Regions from separate parts of the Homo sapiens genome. Here region 1 is linked to region 2. Evidence: fine-mapped expression QTL. Tissue or cell type: lung. Region 2 holds a variant in brackets; the other region holds the start of a gene. All regions are shown on one strand. Distances are between the middles of the regions. Region 1 holds the start of BTBD2 (BTB domain containing 2). Region 2 holds the start of LOC124904610 (a long non-coding RNA gene).

The links.
Region 1: it holds the start of BTBD2, and the variant in region 2 is fine-mapped to the expression of BTBD2 in lung (GTEx, PIP 0.93).

What each region holds. Positions count from the first base shown.
Region 1 is chr19:2,011,026-2,019,342 of GRCh38, forward strand. BTBD2 (BTB domain containing 2) reads right to left here and starts at 4,689. Exons shown (of 9, transcript NM_017797.4): 1 at 4,272-4,689. The coding sequence starts at 4,678. LOC107985278 (a long non-coding RNA gene) reads right to left here. Exons shown (of 4, transcript XR_001753845.2): 3 at 6,158-6,275; 4 at 5,320-6,069. RefSeq lists silencers at 1,279-1,470, 4,286-4,335, 4,346-4,495.
Region 2 is chr19:1,985,031-1,993,347 of GRCh38, forward strand. BTBD2 (BTB domain containing 2) reads right to left here. Exons shown (of 9, transcript NM_017797.4): 3 at 7,990-8,146; 4 at 5,687-5,792; 5 at 4,974-5,171; 6 at 2,470-2,662; 7 at 2,136-2,223; 8 at 1,800-1,946; 9 at 418-1,619. The coding sequence ends at 1,458. LOC124904610 (a long non-coding RNA gene) reads left to right here and starts at 2,662. Exons shown (of 2, transcript XR_007067086.1): 1 at 2,662-3,464; 2 at 3,928-5,340. RefSeq lists an enhancer at 8,282-8,317. The variant C/T (reference allele first, on the strand shown) is at 3,415.

The DNA of each region.
Region 1 (8,317 bases), 26 kb after region 2:
TGTGTCTGAGTGACCTTGTTTCAATCATGGAAACTGAGGCACAGAGCACTTGGGACACACTGCTCTGCGGACCTCTCAGCCCCAGGTCCCGCCAACACATCCAAGCCAGTACTTGTCCCTCCTGAGCCTGTCCTGGCTTGTGATGCTCCAGCCAGAAGTCTGGGGACCCCCACCACAGCCCCCCACGCCCTCACCTGCCAAGCTGCCTCCTCTCCTGGCCACAGGAACTCGCTTCCTCCAAAGAGGACCTGCATCCTCTACCCCTCATTTCTGCCGTCCCCACCGAGCCCGCTGCTGTCTCCTGCCTGGAGTCTGCAGCTGCTACTCCCCAGCCTCGCTCCTGGGCCCATCCACGGCGCGTTCCACCCTCAATGCGGATCTGGTCACACTGGGCCACAGGGCCTCCCTCACTCCTCCTGCTCCGGCCTTGCCATGGCTCCCACCTGCCCAGCCCCTCTGGGCTCTGGGCCTTCCATCCCTGAGCCTGGGGCACTGCACTCTCCATCAACATCACTTGCTCAGGGGGTCGTTCTGGACCAGGTCAGTGCCCCCTCTCCATTTTCAACCCTCCTGAAATGCTAAGGAAACACAGATGACCTTTCAACAAGGCAGGCTTCAACTGCACAGGTCCACTCATATGTGAATTTTTTCAATAAAGGCTGCCCCAACGGTGCCGGCCTCTCCTGCCTCCCCTTCCACCTCTGCCACCCCGGAGACAGACCCACCCTCCTGCTCCTGCTCCTCAGCCCTCAATATGAACACAAGGACACAGGCCTTCATCGTGGCCACCTCCACTGTGTGAACAGCAAACAGGATTTCTCCTTTTATTTTTTTTCCTTTTTTTTTTGAGACAGAGTCTTGCTCTGTCGCCCAGGCTGGAGTGCAGTAGCGCAACCTCGGCTCACTGCAACCTCCGCCTCCCGGGTTCAAGTGATTCTCCTGCCTCAGCCTCCCAAGTAGCTGGGACTACAGTTGTGCACCACCACACCCGGCTAATTTTTTGTATTTTTAGTAGAGACGGTGTTTCACCACGTTGGCCAGGATGGTCTCAAACTCCTGACCTCATGATTCGCCCGCCTCGGCCTCCCAAAGTGCTGGGATTACAGGCGTGAGCCACCGCGCCCAGCCTGTCCTTTATTTTTTTTGAGATGGTGTGTCACTGTGTCGCCTGGGCTGGAGTGCAATGGCGCAATCTCGGTTCCCTGCAACCTCCACCTCCTGGGTTCACGAGATTCTCCTGCCTCAGCCTCCTGAGTAGCTGGGATTACAGGTGTGCGCCACCACGCCCGGCTAATTTTTGTATTTTTGTAGAGACAGGGTTTCACCGTGTTGACCAGGCTGGTCTCGATCTCCCGACCTCGTGATCTGCCCGCCTCGGCCTCCCAAAGTGCTGGGATTCCAGGCGTGCGCCCCCGCACCCGGCCCCTTAGACTTTTCTGAATGTATTTTCTGTTCTCCAGCCTGTTATTGTGAGAACAGGAGGCTGGTGTGCATTGACCAAGTGTCCTCACAAGGCCTCCGGTCAGCGAGAAGCCATTCCTAGTTAAGTTCGTGGGAGTCAAAAGTTGTACTTGGATTTGAGCTGAGTGGGGGTCCACGCCCCTAACCCCGCATGTCGAGGGTCCGCTGTCCCAGGCCCGCCCACCTTACCTTGCTGCTATCTCCCGCTGGGCCTCATTGCCCTCTCCTGAGCCCCCCGGGGGCAGACCCCTCACCTACTTTTCTCCAAGGGGTCCTTGTCCTGCCTCCATCTTCCCCACTTTGCAACCGAGCCAGCGGTCCCTCAAGTGCAATCGCATACATGTCCCAAGGTCAGCCGGTGCCCGGGGCGCCCCACCTCCCCCCTCAAACAGAAAGCCTGGGATTCTCCAGCTGCACCTGCTGCTGGGTGAGTTCCAGCTGCATCCAACCTACCCCCTCCCCAAAGAGCACAAAGACCACCCAGGTGGAGGGAGCAAACCCACCGCCCCTCACTCCAAGCTAGGAGAGGCCCAGCAGCTAAGGACGACAGAGACAGGGACGGCGACACGGACGGCACAAGCCGTAGGAGGCCCCGGAACCCTCCAGGGGCAGGAACCTCTGCTAAGTACCGCCCAGGGCAGGACCCCACGAAAGGAGACCCAGCTGCCCATAAACACCCAGGAAGAAGCCAGAACACGTTAACAAAAGCACCCGAAGGTCAGAAGGGAGGGCAGGACCCTCCCCCTCCAGTGCCCGCAGCAAGAAAACCCAGCCCCTGCCCCCGACCAATGAGGGGCAGGGTAAGAGGGACCGGGGAGTGGAGGGAACCTGGGGCCTGGGGCCGGTACCCCGCACACTGGCAAAGACAGATACTGGGCCAAACCCACTTCTTTCCCAGAAAGGAGGGCTGGGGGCTGGGGAGGGAGGGACCCCGGAGCTGGGGGTCTCTGGGTTGGAAGGGCCCGGAGATGGGAGTCTGGGCAGGGGTCTAGGGTGGTGGCCTGGTGGCAGGGGATCATAGGATGGGGTGCAGGGGGTAGCAGGGCCCAGGGGAGACAACCTTCTGCAGAGTCCAGGGTCCAGAGCCTGGCAGTGGCGGAGCTGGAGGTGGGTGGTCACTGAAGTGGGAGGTGGCAGGGCCCAGGGGTCTCTGGCTGAGGTGGGGGTCCGGGGCTGGAGGGGCTGTGGATGGTAGTCTATGATCTGGACTGCAGGGCGGGCAGGGGGTATCCCTGGAGGGGAGCAGCATGGTTTGAAGGTCTCTGATCCAGATCATGTGCTGAGCCTGGGGGTCTCCGGTGGGGGTCACTGGGTCTGGAGGCAGCAGGGAGGACGCAGGGAGCAAGGCCTAGGGGTCTTGGCGCACAGGGGTGCGGGTGGGAGTGGCAGGGTCCCTGGATGGTGGGGGAAGAGGGAGGGGTCTTGTGGTCATGGGTGGGGGTGGAGGAAATAGCACGACCCCTGAAGGGAGGGGTCCTGGAGTTCAGGAGTCATAGGTTGGGGGTTACGGACTGAGGTGGTGAGGACTGGGGACGGGGGGTCTCAGGTGAGAGCGGAGAAGTCTCTCCATCCTGGGATGCAGGGGTGACACACTTGAGTGTAGTGGGGTCCCAGGGGGCCCCGGGAGTAGAGAGTGGAAGGGCAGTGGGCAGGGGTGAAGGACCTGGGGAAGGAGGGGTCCTGGAGAGTCCCTGGGTACAGGGACGGAGGGGTCACCAGTAGGGGTCCCAGGGGGAGAGGGGCGGCAGGCAAGGGTGCAGGGCCTGGGGATGGAGGGGTCCTGAGGATCCCCGGGTATAGGGATGGAGGGGTGTGGCATGTGGGGTCATGGGTCCTAGAAACAGTGGGTTGGGGTCCTGGGAATGGAGGAGCAGATAGGGGTACACGTCCCAGGGTTGGAGGGTCACAGGAGTCCCAGGGGTGGTGGGTGGGGGTGCAGGGCCAGGGCATGGAGGGGACCCAGGGATGCAGGCCAGGTGGGGTCCAGGGATGGAGGGGCCTGGGGTGTAGGCAGGGGTTCCAGCCGGAGGTGGAGGGGCCCAGGGATCTGGGGGCAGAGGTGTCTGGGGACCTGGGGTGCAGGGAGGGGTGAGGTCCAGGGATGGAGCGTCCTGGGGATGGAAGAATGGAGGGTCCTAGGGTGCAGGCGGGGGGTGGAGGGCCCTGAGGATGGGGTATTCAGGGTTCTGGGGTGCGGGCTGGGTGGGGTTTGAGGATGGAGGGGCCCAGGGGCTCCAAGTGCAGGCCGAGTTGGAGGGTCCCAGGAACGGAGGGTACCGGAGTGCAGGCTGGGTGGGTCCAGGGACGGAGGAGAGCAGGGGTCCCAGGGGTACAGGGCCTGGGATCCCGGGGAACAGGCTGGGGGCGCAAGCCAGAGGTGGAGGATCCAGGGGGGCCTGGGGATGGAGGGGTGCAGAGGCCCAGAGTGCAGGCCTGGTGGGGTCTGGGGACAGAGAGGTGCAGAGGCAGGGACAGAGGGGTGCAGAGCCCAGGGAACTGGGTGGAGTCTAGGGATGGAAGGGTGCAGGCCCCGGGGTGCAGGCCGGGTCGGTTTCAGGACCGGAGGGGTGCAGGGGTCCCAGGGACAGAGGGGTGCAGGGCCTCAGGTGCAGGCCCCGGGGTGCAGGCCGAGTTGGGTTCGGAGCCTGAGGATGCAGGGGTGCAGGGGTCCCGGGGACAGAGGGGTGCAGGGCTCGGGGATGGAGGGGTGCGGGGGTCTCGGGGACAGAGGGGTGCAGGGCCTCAGGTGCAGGGCCCGGGCAGCAGGCTGGGTGGGTCGGGGCCAGGGCTGGCGGGGTCGGGGCGCCCACCTGTGCGCGGGGATGCGCTGCGAGCTGAGCCCCTTGCCCACCAGGAAGTGCACGTCGCACAGCACCTCGTTGTTGAAGAGGAAGGCGAAGCGCTCCTGCACGGTGGGCTTGCTGGCCTGCCAGTTGTACGCGGCCTCGCGCTGCAGCGCCGCCGCCCCCGGGCCCGCCGCCTCCTCCGCCCGCTCCGCGCCCGCGGCCTGCGCGTCTGTCCCGGGGCCCGGCGGGGCGGGCGGCGTCGGCCCAGGGGCGGCGGCGGCGGCGGCGGCGGCGGCGGCGGCGGCGGCCGCGTTGCCGGGGGCCGGGGTGGCGGCGGCGTTGGCGCTGGGCCCGGGACTGCCCCCCGTGCCCGGGCCGACCCCGACCCCCGGCGGGCACGACGCACGCCCGCCGCTCCCACCCGCCGCCATTTTGTGGCTGCGGCGTGGGCGGGGGAGGGGAGGAGGGAAGGAGGGAGGGGAGGAGGGAAGGAGGGAGGGGAAAGGAGGAGAGTAGGGGGAGGAGGGGGAGGAGGGAGGGGAGGGGAAAAGAGGAGGGAGGGGAAAGGAGGGGAGGAGGGAGGGGAGGGGAAGCGGGAAGGAGGGAGGGGAGGAGAGGGAGGGGAAAGGAGGGGGAAGGAGGGAGGGGAGGAGAGGGAGGGGAAAGGAGGGGGAAGGAGGGAGGGGAGGAGAGGGAGGGGAAAGGAGGGGGAAGGAGGGAGGGGAGGAGAGGGAGGGGAAAGGAGGGGGAAGGAGGGAGGGGAGGAGAGGGAGGGGAAAGGAGGGGAGGTGGGAGGGGAGGAGGGAGGGGAGAAGGGAGGTGAATGGGGGAGGCTGTTGCAGGGGAGGGGACGGGGAGGAGAGGGAAGAGTAGGAGGGGCCTGTAGAGGGGAGGAGCTGGTGGAAGACCTCTTGCTCCACTCCCTAAGCATCCTGACCTGAAGCCCAGACTCCAGACCGAGGTCCAGAATTTGGGGTCCAGGCACCAGGCCCCAGACTCCAGACCGGGAATCCTAAACCCTGGAGCACAGACCTCAGTCCGGGATCCCAGGCCTCAGACCTTGAATCCTAGATCCCAGACTCTGAACCCCAGACTTCAGACTCCGGATTCCAGATCCCATACCTCAGACCCGGAACCCCCAACCCAAAGACCAAGCGCAAACTCCAGACCCCAGACCCCGGACCCAGGTGGCGGGCCTGCTCCGTGGCGCAGGCTCCGCTGTACAGAGACATAGCCTGAGGCCGGGAAGCTGCGGATGAGCGAGCAGGATGCAGGCCACGTGCACTGACACTCAGCAGACGCCCAGCACCCTCTCCAGGCCAGGTGTGGGGGGTGGTCAGTGTGGACGGAGCTGGGACTCCCCCAAAACGCTTACTACATACATAATGTCAAGGTAGACAAATGCCACAAAGATTGAGGAACCAGGTCGGGCGCAGTGGCTCACGCCTGTAATCCCAGCACTTCAGGAGGCCAAGGCGGGGGGTGCATCACCTAAGGTCAAGAGTTGGAGACCAGCCTGGGCAACATGGCAAAACCCTGTCTCTACAAAAAATACAAAAATTAGCCAGGCGCGGTGGCTCACGTCTGTAATCCCAGCACTTTGGGAGGCCGAGGCGGGCGGATCACCAGGTCGGGAGATCGAGACCATCCTGGTGAAACCCCATCATGGTGAAACCCCATCTCTACTAAAAATACGAAAATTAGCCAGGCTTGGTGGCGGGTGCCTGTAATCCCAGCTACTCGGGAGGCTGAGGCAGGAGAATCACTTGAACCTGGGAGGCGGAGGTTGCAGTGAGCCGAGACCGCGCCATTGCACTCCAGCCTGAACAACAAGAACAAAACTCCGTCTCAAACAAACAAACAAACAAACAAAACAAAACAAAAAAAAAACTAGGCGTGGTGGTACGCACCTGTTGTCCCAGCTACTCAGAAGGCTGAGACGGAAGCATCACTTGAGCCTGGAAGGTTGAGCTTTTGATGAGCTATGACTCCACCACTGCCCTCCAGCCTGGGCAACAGAGCAAGATCCTGTCTCGAAAAAAAAAAAAAACAAAGAAGAAAAAGAAAATAGGGTATTAAAAAAACCCAAGTGATAATGCTATTTTCAGTTCTCCAGAGTGGGTGGTTGAGGTAGTTACAATTTTTTTTTCTTTTTTCTTTTTTCTTTTTAGAGTCTCCCTCTATTGCCCAGGCTGGGGTGCAGTGATGGCGATCTTGGCTCACTGCAATCTCAGCCTCCTGGTTCAAGCAATTCTCCCGCCTCAGCCTCCTGAGTAGCTGGGGTTACAGGTACCCGCCACCACGCCTGGCTAAGGCTAATTTTTTTTTGTTTGTTTGTTTTGTTTTTGAGACAGTCTCGTTCTGTCGCCCAGGCTGGAGTGCAGTGGCGCGATCTTGGCTCACTGTAAGCTCCGCCTCCCAGATTCACGCCATTCTCCTGCCTCAGCCTCCCGAGTAGCTGGAACTACAGGCGCCTGCCACCATGCCTGGCTAATTTTATATGTGTGTGTGTGTATGTATATACATATATATATATATATATATATTTTTTTTTTTTTTTTTTTTTTTTTTTGAGACAGTCTTGCTCTGTCGCCCAGGCTGGAGTGCAGTGGCACGATCTCAGCTCACCACAACCTCCGCCTCCCGGATTCAAGCGATTCTCCTGCCTCAGCCTCCTGAGTAGCTGGGATTACATGCACCACCACGCCCGGCTAATTTTGTATTTTTAGTAGAGACGGGGTTTCTCCATGTTGGTCAGGCTGGTCTCGAACTCCCGACCTCAGGTGATCCGCCTGCCTTGGCCTCCCCAAGTGCTGGGATTACAGGCGGGAGCCATCACAGCCGGCCTCTAAATGTCAACTTTCTTATCTCTCATCTCATACATTTGCAAAGTGACATCTTTCCAGCCAAATCCTAAAGAGGACATCTGTGCAGTCCCTTCTAGATGAAGGTGCAGAACAGGCATACCTGCCATGGTGACAGAAATTAACAAAATGGTAGGTTGTCTGAGGAAAGGGTGAACTTTACGGAATGCTGAGATGTTCACGATTTTTTTTTTTTTTTTTTTTTTTTTTTTTTTTGAGATGGAGTCTCGTTCTGCCACCCAGGCCAGAGTGCAGTGGTGCAATCTCGGCTCACTGTAAGCTCTGCCTTCCAGGTTCATGCCATTCTCCTGCCTCAGCCCCCCGAGTAGCTGGGACTACAGGCGCCTGCCACCATGCCCGGCTAATTTTTTTTTTTTTTTTGTATTTTTAGTAGAGTCGGGGTTTCATCGTGTTAGCCAGGATGGTCTCTATCTCCTGACCTCGTGATCCGCCCACCTCGGCCTCCTAAAGTGCTGGGATTACAGATGTGAGCCACCGCGCCTGGACTTTTTTTTTTTTAAAGAGCTGTAGGCCAGCCATGGTAGCTCACGCCTGTAATCCCAGCACTTTCGGAGGCCGAGGCAGGCAGATTACTTGAGTTCAGGAGTTCGAGACCAGCCTGGCCAACATAGTGAAACCCTGTCTCCACAAAAAAATACAAAATTAACAAGGTGTTCTGGTGTGTGCCGGTAGTCCCAGCTTTTGGGAGGCTGAAGTGGGAGGATGGCTACAGCTGGGGAGGCTGAGATTGTGCCACTGCACTCCAGCCTGGGCGACAAAGTGAGGCCCTGCCTAACACACACGCACGCGTGCGCGCACACACAGGCACACACACACACGGGATCTCACTTTGTCGCCCAGGCTGCTCATGAACTCCTAGGCTCAAGCAATCTTCTCGCTAGGCCTCCCAAAACGCTGGGATTACAGGTGTGAACCACTCGGCCATGTGGAGATTTTTTTTTTTTTTTTTTTTTTCTTGAGACAGAGTCTTGCTCTGTCGCCCAAGCTGGAGTGCAGTGGCGCGATCTCGGCTCACTGCAAGCTCTGCCTCCCGGGTTAACACCATTCTTCTGCCTCAGCCTCCCAAGTAGCTGGGACTACAGGCGCCTGCCACCACGCCCGGCTAATTTTTTTGTATTTTTAGTAGAGACGGAGTTTCACCGTGTTAGCCAGGATGGTCTCGATCTCCTGACCTCCTGATCTGCC
Region 2 (8,317 bases):
CCTGCACGTGTGCTCCTGAGGCAGCAGCCAACGGCTTGACTTCTCTGGCCACTGAGGCCACAACTGGGCACTCCCTGCTTTCTCTCCATCTCTCACATCCACGGTCCCCCAGCAGCCAGCAGGGCCTCCCCACGGGGAAATCGGCACACACGTCCATTGCATTTGGGTTTGGGGGGAGGTGTTGAGTTAGTTAGGGTCTTGCTCTTGCCCAGGGGGGAGGGCAGTGGTGCATCACTGCTCACTGCAGTCTCGACCTCCCGGGCTTCAGTGTGGCCTGTGGGTACTTAAGGAGGGTCTCGCAGCACTGGCGACCAGACCCGGGGTTCAGGGCCCCTCTCGGCGCACGACATCCCTCGCCCACTGCAGCCCGGATGACAGGGCAGAGAGTGAAGGGGAGCAAAGCAGTGTGCGCTCAAGGCAGGTGCATTTGTTTCTTTATTTAAAAAAATCATCTGGGGGCATGGTCTGAGGAGGACACCCCTCCCATGGCTTTGGGGAGGACGCAGGTTCCAGGAGTCACAGGGCAGAAACACGCGGGGTGGGTGGGGGCGTGGCCGGAGTGGGGAGGGGCTGTGCCCCCAGCACCTGGGGGTGGCTCCCACGGCACCAGGTGGGCTAGGGCAACAGTATGTACAGGCGAGCAGTGCTCCTGGACCCGGTCGGGGCCGGCTGGGGCCCCATTCTGCGGCAGGGGAGCTCTGGGGCACAGGGTCTGAGTCCCATCTTGGGCTGCAGGGACCGCGAGGGCCGTCCAGGGAGGCTGGACAGCGGGGGCCTTTATCTGGGCCCATCAGGTGGATGAGAACGGACACTGCAAACCGCTCACCACCTGGGCCAGGGCTAGGCCTATCCGGCAGGGGCCGTCCCCACACTGAATCCTGCGTGCGCAGAACTCAAGCCGGCATCCAGGCAGTGGGAACGCCCCGCAGGCTGGGCTTGGGTGGCCTCGGGCACGTGACAGGTGGGGCCCGTGTCCTGATAAACGGACAGGAACAAAAGGAACGCAAGGTCTGGGACCCACGGCTCTGGGAGCAGCGCCACCCAGGCTGGCTCCTAGCAGAGAAATGGGAATCGCAAATGCATTGCAATGTGCAGTGAAGAGACGCGAGGGACGCCCGCGGCGCACCGCCGGCAGACGACGTGGGCAGGCGCCCTGAGCTGCGGGTCCGTGGGCCCTGGCCCAGGCCGGCACAGCCCTGTCCCTAGTCCTGAGGGATTGTCTCCACAGGGCCTGGCCACTGGCCTGGCCACCTCCCCGGCTGCCCTGATCCAGCAGCCACACTCGTGGTGAACACAGGGCAACCCCGTCCTGATGCTGAGAAAGGTGGCATGGAGTGGACAGACGGCCTGGGGGACACTGGGCCTGGCACCGCGTGGTGGGGGGGCCCCAGCAGCAGATGATGGCCTGGGGCTGCGGCTATCCCCACGGAGGGAGGGCGGTGTCGGTGTCGGGCAGCCTAGGTGTAGAAGATGACCTCGGGGATCTGGCCGTCCTCCACGGATGTGCCATTGTTGTTCCCGGCCGCGTAGCAAAAGGTGAAGCAGGTCTTGGCGCCCGTGGTGGGCGACTCGTGTGTCACCTTGCGCAGGCCTTTGGTGCCGTAGTGGGAGTCTGGGCCCTGTAGGGAATAGGGGTACAGTGAGGTCAAGGACCACCAGGCTGGGATGCCCCAGGTGTGGACAGGGCAAGGCCCCGACTGGGCCAGGGTGGCTGCCTCTGGAGAGTGTGTGCTGTGCCCCGGTGGCTTCAGGATGGGCCAGAGACTCCCACGGAGGGACCCCTGTCCCCGGCGGCGCACCTTGAGCGTGGCACAGGCCGTGTAGTTGACGTTGGGCAGCACCTCCACCGGCTCCTTGAACATGACGCGGAAGGTGCTGGCTGAGCCGTCGCAGCTGAAGCCCGTGTCGTTCTGGCCCAAGACGGTGTTGCTATCGGTGTGAATAATCTGCGGGGAGGTGGGAAGTGGGAGGCTCAGGCCTGGGGAGGGCCAACGGGGACCCCTCGAGGCCCAGCCCACCTGCCCAGGGTGGGGGCAGCACAGGGACCAGGGCCGGGGGTTCAGCCAGGGTTCCATGGAGGTGGAGAGAGGACATGGGCCTGAGTGGGGCCTGGGGATGAGGCTTGGGGCTGGTACCTGGATGTTCACTTGGTAGTCGGTGGGCCCGTGGATGGATCCATACAGCCCAAATCCCACCACGAAGATGCGCTTGTTGACTGAGAACCTGCCGTGGCAGATGACAGGCAGCAGCGTGGATACCCAGGGATAGCCTAAGGTGAGCTGGGGCGAGCCCACCCCCATGCCCGGTCCCCTCCATCGTCCCTGAGTCCTCCACCCCCATGCCCGGCGGCCCCCCCGCCGTCTTCATCATCCCTGAGTTCTCCACCCCCATGCCCGGCCCCCCATCTCCGTCATCCCCGAGTCCTCCACCCCCATGTCCGGACCCCCCCGCCTGCACCCCAAGCCCCACCTGATGCGGTCACTGGTCCCGCTGTAGCCCCAGCGACTCTCCACCTGCTGGAAGCGGTTGATGCTGCACTCCTTCCCACGCAGGCAGCAGCGGGGCCGGTCAATGAACTCCACTCGTGGCTTGGGGTTGACGGTGAAGTGCAGGAAGAGGCTGACCACCTCGCGGTCCACCAGGATGCCCGACTGTGCGGGACCTGCAGCACAGGGAGGGTGTGGGGGAGGGCCGGGCTGCACCCCAGGATCCCGAGTGCCTGGGAGGACACGCTCCTTCCCCCTAAGATGTCTGCGTCGGACTTTCAAGGTGCAGGGACCTGGGCAGCCCCTCCCCGGGGGACTAGCCACCAGCCATGGCCCCTGCTGCCTGGGCTTTTAGGGAGAGGTCCCAGGGCACAGACCAGAGGCCGACAGATACGCTCACTCAGGGGCGATGCCTCAGGGTCTGACAGATGCACTCACTCAGGGGTGATGTCTCAGGGTCTGGCCCCACTGTAGGGACCACCCGTCACTTCACTGTGGGTGGGGGCGGGGGGCTCCACTGCCTGTTCTCTCAGGGCCATTGGCTGGGAGGGGTCACTGTGGCTCCCTGCTAGGCCTGTACCCCCCAGGCTGCAGCCCTGGCTTCTAGAAGCAGTCTGGGGGTTCCTCTCCACGGTGGGCCCTAGGCAGACACCTTCTCAAGCGCTTACACCCCCAGGGGTGATGGCTAGCGGACCCCAGGCAGACTCCAAGAGCCAGGCTCTTAATCCCGGTGCAGAGATGTCACAGGCAGAGGGACTGTGCATGGGATGTGAAGGGGCTCTGGGTAGGGAGGGGAGGCCAGGAGGGGCAGAATTGGGGGTCCACCATCCACCCCCAGGAGTGCCAGGACACAGCACCCTCTGCTCTAATGAGAGCAGCCCTGCCTGCCTGAGACCTAATCACTCATCAACCAAGGTGGGCTCAACTC[C/T]GCATCGCTCAGCTGCAAGCCAGCCCAGTGCAGACACAGTTTAATAACTGGTGAGAAACAGACCATTATGGGTTAAGTGAATCAGGAAGACTGAGTATCAAAACTCAATAAACAATGTTAACAATTTTTTTTTTTTTTGAGACGGAGTTTCGCTCTTGTCCCCCAGGCTAGAGTGCAGGACGGAGTTTCGCTCTTGTCCCCCAGGCTAGAGTGCAGTGGCGTAATCTCGGCTCACCGCAACATCCGTCTCCAGGGTTCAAGCAATTCTCCTGCCTCAGCCTCCAGCATAGCTGGGTTTACAGGCATGCGCCACCATGCCCAGCTAATCTTGTATTTTTAGTAGAGACGGGGTTTCACCCTGTTGGTCAGGCTGGTCTCAAACTCCTGACCTCAAGTGATTCCCCCCATCTTGGGCCTCCCAAAGTGCTGGGATTACAGGAGTGAGTGACCCAGCCTGGCCAACAATTGTATATATTTTTTTATTTTAAATGGAGTTTCACTCTTGTTGCCCAGGCTGGAGTGCAGTGGCGCGATCTCGGCTCATCACAACCTCCACCTCCTGGGTTCAAGTGATTCTCCTGCCTCAGCCTCCCGGGTAGCTGGGATTACAGGCATGAGCCACCACACCCAGCTGATCAACAGTTGTATTTTTAAGAAGTATGTATCTAGCCAGGCTCGGTGGCCCATGTCCATAATCCCAGCACTTTGTGAGGCCGAGATGGGAGGATGGCTGGAGCCCAGTTCATGACCAGCCCAGGTGACATAGCAAGACCCTGTCCCCACAAAAAAATACAAATATAAGCCTTGTGTGGTGGTGGCACCTGTGATCCCAGCTACTCCGGAGTCTGAAGCAGGAGGATCACTTGAGCCCAGGAGGTCGAGGCTGCAGTGAGCTGTGATTGTACCACCGCACTCAGCCTGGGCGACAGAGACCCTCTTGCTAAATCTGGCGACCTTCAGCTAAGCAAGAGCGGGGGCCGCGTGGACCTGGGGAAGGCCAGACGGCGAGTGTGCACCAGCCCCAGGGCTCTGTCCCAGCCCCTTCTGGAAAGTTCCAGGCCTGTTTTGCTCCAGAGCTGGATGGCGTCAGGCAGTGAGCAGCCACGAGGGCAGGAGGCATCGTTAGCGCTGCCCCTTCACGTCACCCTGGAACCCAGGCCCTGCAGCAGGGGACCCCAAGGCCCACTCGGGCGCATGACAGCCACCCCGGCCATGTCAGAGCCCTCCTGAGCTCGTCACAGACACTGGTACCTGCACCAGCAGGTAGCACAAGGGCGCGAGACGGGGACTCCCTTCCCTCCTGGGAAGATGCCACCAAAACAGCTGGACAGACACGAGAGGCGGGGTCTGGCAGTGTGCACGGTGGGGACAGAGCCGGGCCGGGGCTAACAGATGGCCCTGTGGACGCGTCCTCACAAGCCAGGTTTCTTCCTATCTGTATATGCCAGGCATCTGCCAGGCTTTCCGCAGTGAACTCGGGGGCACTATCCTCGGTACCCAGATGCCCACCTGTGTGCCACTCCCCTCCCAAACCAGCCCCTGAGCCCGAGCTCTGTTACCTGCAGCGAACTCCTCGATGGTCATGAGCGGGAAGCGAATGAGGCCCAGGGCCTTGCCCAGAACCTTCCGCCTGTTCTCTGGCGTCACCTGCAGCTGCTGCCGCTGACACTCGGCCTCGGACCAGCGGACAACGGCATTGAACAGCCGCACCTCACGGATGCCCAGTGTGTCGCGCTCCAGGACAGCCACCAGCGTGTCTGTGGGGTGGAGGAAGGGGCTGCGTGAACACGACACCCACATGCCCACCCTGCAGGAGGCAGTGAGACTAACGTGAGGACCAGCAGTTAAAGCCGGGCTGGCAACTATGGCCCGTGGCCCAAATCTGGCCCTGTGAGTGTGTTTATAAATAAAGCTTTATCAACACAAGACCACGCCCCTTCATTTTCCTCGGCTGTGGTTGTTTTTAAGCCACAAGGACAGACTTGAGTAGCTTTGACAAAAGCTGTTCAACAGCAAAGTCAAAGCCATGGACCATCGGAGGACGAGATGGTCACCATCAGCTGGGATGGTGGGCTCTGGCCTGTGGCCTCCTGGCCAAGGCCCCGGACTCCCGTGGGGCTGTGCTAGGACCCAAACTCCTGACCTGCTGCAAGTGGTGAGGCCCCAGCTCACCTGTGCAACTCCCCCAGGCCCAAAGCTCCCACTGTCAATCCCCGGACCCTCCCGCCGAGGCCCCGCTGGGATTCCCACACCTGGGCTCCTGGGCCCTTACCCAGGTCAATGTCGGTGAAGCCCTCCGCGGTGATGGCGTCTGCAGTGTTTTTGTCGATGTTCTCCAGGCACAGGCTGGCCAGCTGCGGTTCATCGAAGAGTCGCGCCTGGCAAGAGACATCGACGGGGGGCGCGGTGGGGACATCAGCACCCAGCCCTCGGCAGATCCCCAGTGCGGGGCCGGTTCAAATGCAGCCCTGACCACACGGGCCTTCCTGAGCGTGGCCAGGAGCCACCAGGGTCTCAGCCACCAGGCCGGCCCTGTTGTGGGCCCAGAGACTCCCCTGTGACCGCTGACTGGGGCGGGAGAGTTGGGGAGTTCCCTCTCAGGACCTCAGAGGCCAAGGAAGGAAGAAAAAGATGCTCAGGTCCCTGTCGGCAGGGCCTGCTGCTTTAGGCAAAAGGGGCGTTGCAGCTGCACTCGGGGGGCAGCAGGGCCCAGGACCCCGAGTGGCAGGCAGAGGTGAGGTGGCCGGGGCCGACCGGTGAAGCTTCCCGACCACAACATGCCCTTGGCCACTTGTGGTGGGAGGGGCCGTGTCCCCGGCAGCTCCATCCCAAGACAAACAGCAGACATGACTTCTGACAGTCAGGTGACAGAGCTGGAGGACGCCTGTGCTCTTAGGGAAACAGAGGCTTAGTTAGTGGAAGGTGCTGGAAGGGCCTATGCCAGCAGGGACCCGGGCAGGCCTTTCTGCGGGCATCCTCCCGAGGACACCTCTCAAGTGGGTTCGTAGTGGTTTTAGGGGCAGGGAGGCTGAGGCAGCCACAAGATGAAGCCCGGGGAGTGAGCTCCAGCCTCCTCTCAGCTCAGGCAGAGGCCTCTCCAGCAAGGCGACCAGATGACCCGGACAAGAAACCCCTCCCTGTGGGAGTCCGGGATGCCCTGCATCTGACCTGCCAGGATGGAGGGGGAGAAGGTTCTGGGTCCTTTCCAGGATGCCGGACCCCCAAAGCCCATTGGAGGACCCAGTGCCGCTGTCCCCTCTGGCCACCCTCCACCCCCGACCAGGAGCTCACGGCTCCCAAGCGGCCGTCCACCCGTACTGGCCCCACGTCCTCTCAGCCTCCCTGGCCTGCACGACCTCCCCAGCCCCCGCCCTTTGGGCTGCACAGAGCCCAACTGGGGTCCCCTGAGATCCCTGGCCCTGCTCTGTCTACCTGACATTTCCTTAGAGAGAGAGAGAAAGTTCTCTCTGGTTTTTTTTTTTCTTTTTTTTTAGCCAGGCGCGGTGGTGGGGGCCTGTAATCCCAGCTACTGTGGAGGCTGAGGCAGGAGAATCGCTTGAACGCTGGAGGCGGAGGTTGCAGTGAGCTGAGATCGTGCCATTGCACTCCAGCCTGGGCAACAAGAGAAACCCCGTCTCAAAAAAAAATTATTTTACTTTTTTTTTAGAGACAGGGTCTCACTCTGTCACTCAGGCTGGAGTGCAGTGGCGCCATCTCCACTCACTGCAGCCTCAACCTCCCGGGCTCAGGCAATCTTCCTGCTTTGGTCCCCCAAGTAGTTGAGATTCCAGACATGCACCAGCGTGCTTGGCTAATTTATGAAATATTTTTTTTTAGTAGAGATGAGGTTTCACCATGTTGGCCAGGCTGGTCTCAAACTCCTGACCTCTGGTGATCTGCCTGTCTCAGCCTCCCAAAATGCTGGGATTACAGGCATGAACCACAGTGCCCGGCCTGAATCTTTTTTTAATTTTTTGTAGAAACGGGGTCTCTCTATGTTGCCTAGGCTGGTCTAGAACTCCGGGCCTCAAGCAATCCTCCCTACTTGGCCTCCCAAAGTGCTGGGGTTACAGGCGTGAGCCACCGCACCCTGCCAATAATTTTTTGAAGTATCACGGAAAAGTCCAAAACACATCTTTTTTTTTCAGGTGGAGTCTCGCTCTGTCATGCACGCTGGAGTGCAGTGGTGCGATCTCGGCTCACTGCAACCTCCACCTCCCAGGTTCATGCAATTCTCCTGCCTCAGCCTCCCAAGTAGCTGGAATTACAGGTGCCCGCCACCACGCCCGGCTCTTTTTTGTGTTTTTAGTAGAGATAGGATTTCGCCATGTTGGCCAGGCTGGTCTGGAACGCCTGAGCTCAGGTGATCTGCCCGCCTCGGCCTCCCAAAGTGCCGGGATTACAGGCGTGAGCAACCACGCCCGGCCCAAAACACATTTTACTACCAGGCAGGAGCCTGCTGCCTCCCGGGCCCGCCCCCGGCCCCGCCTCCGCCTCCAGCCTCGGTCCGCCCCACCCCGGCCCCGCCTCCAGCCAGGCCTGGCCCCGCCCCCGCCTCGTACCGGCCCCGCCCACCTGCGTGAGCAGCATGAAGGCGTTGTCGGCTCGCAGGTTCTTCTTCAGGAACTCCACGCAATGGGCCTCGAGCGCTGGCACCGCGTACTTCTTGGCGGTGTATAGCGTGGTCATCACCGTCTCCGGGCCAATCTGCACCTCGTCCGAGTAGAGAAACCTGCAGAAGCAACGCGGGTGGCCGTGAGGTGGGACCGCCATGCCCGCCCCCAGGGGAGAGCGTCAGGGGACCACTCAGACCGTTAGACTCGGCCACCGGCCCTTGAGCTGGCAGGACCCAAACACCCACATCAGGTTCCCCGAGGAACCTTCCAGAATTAGCCCCTGTCCG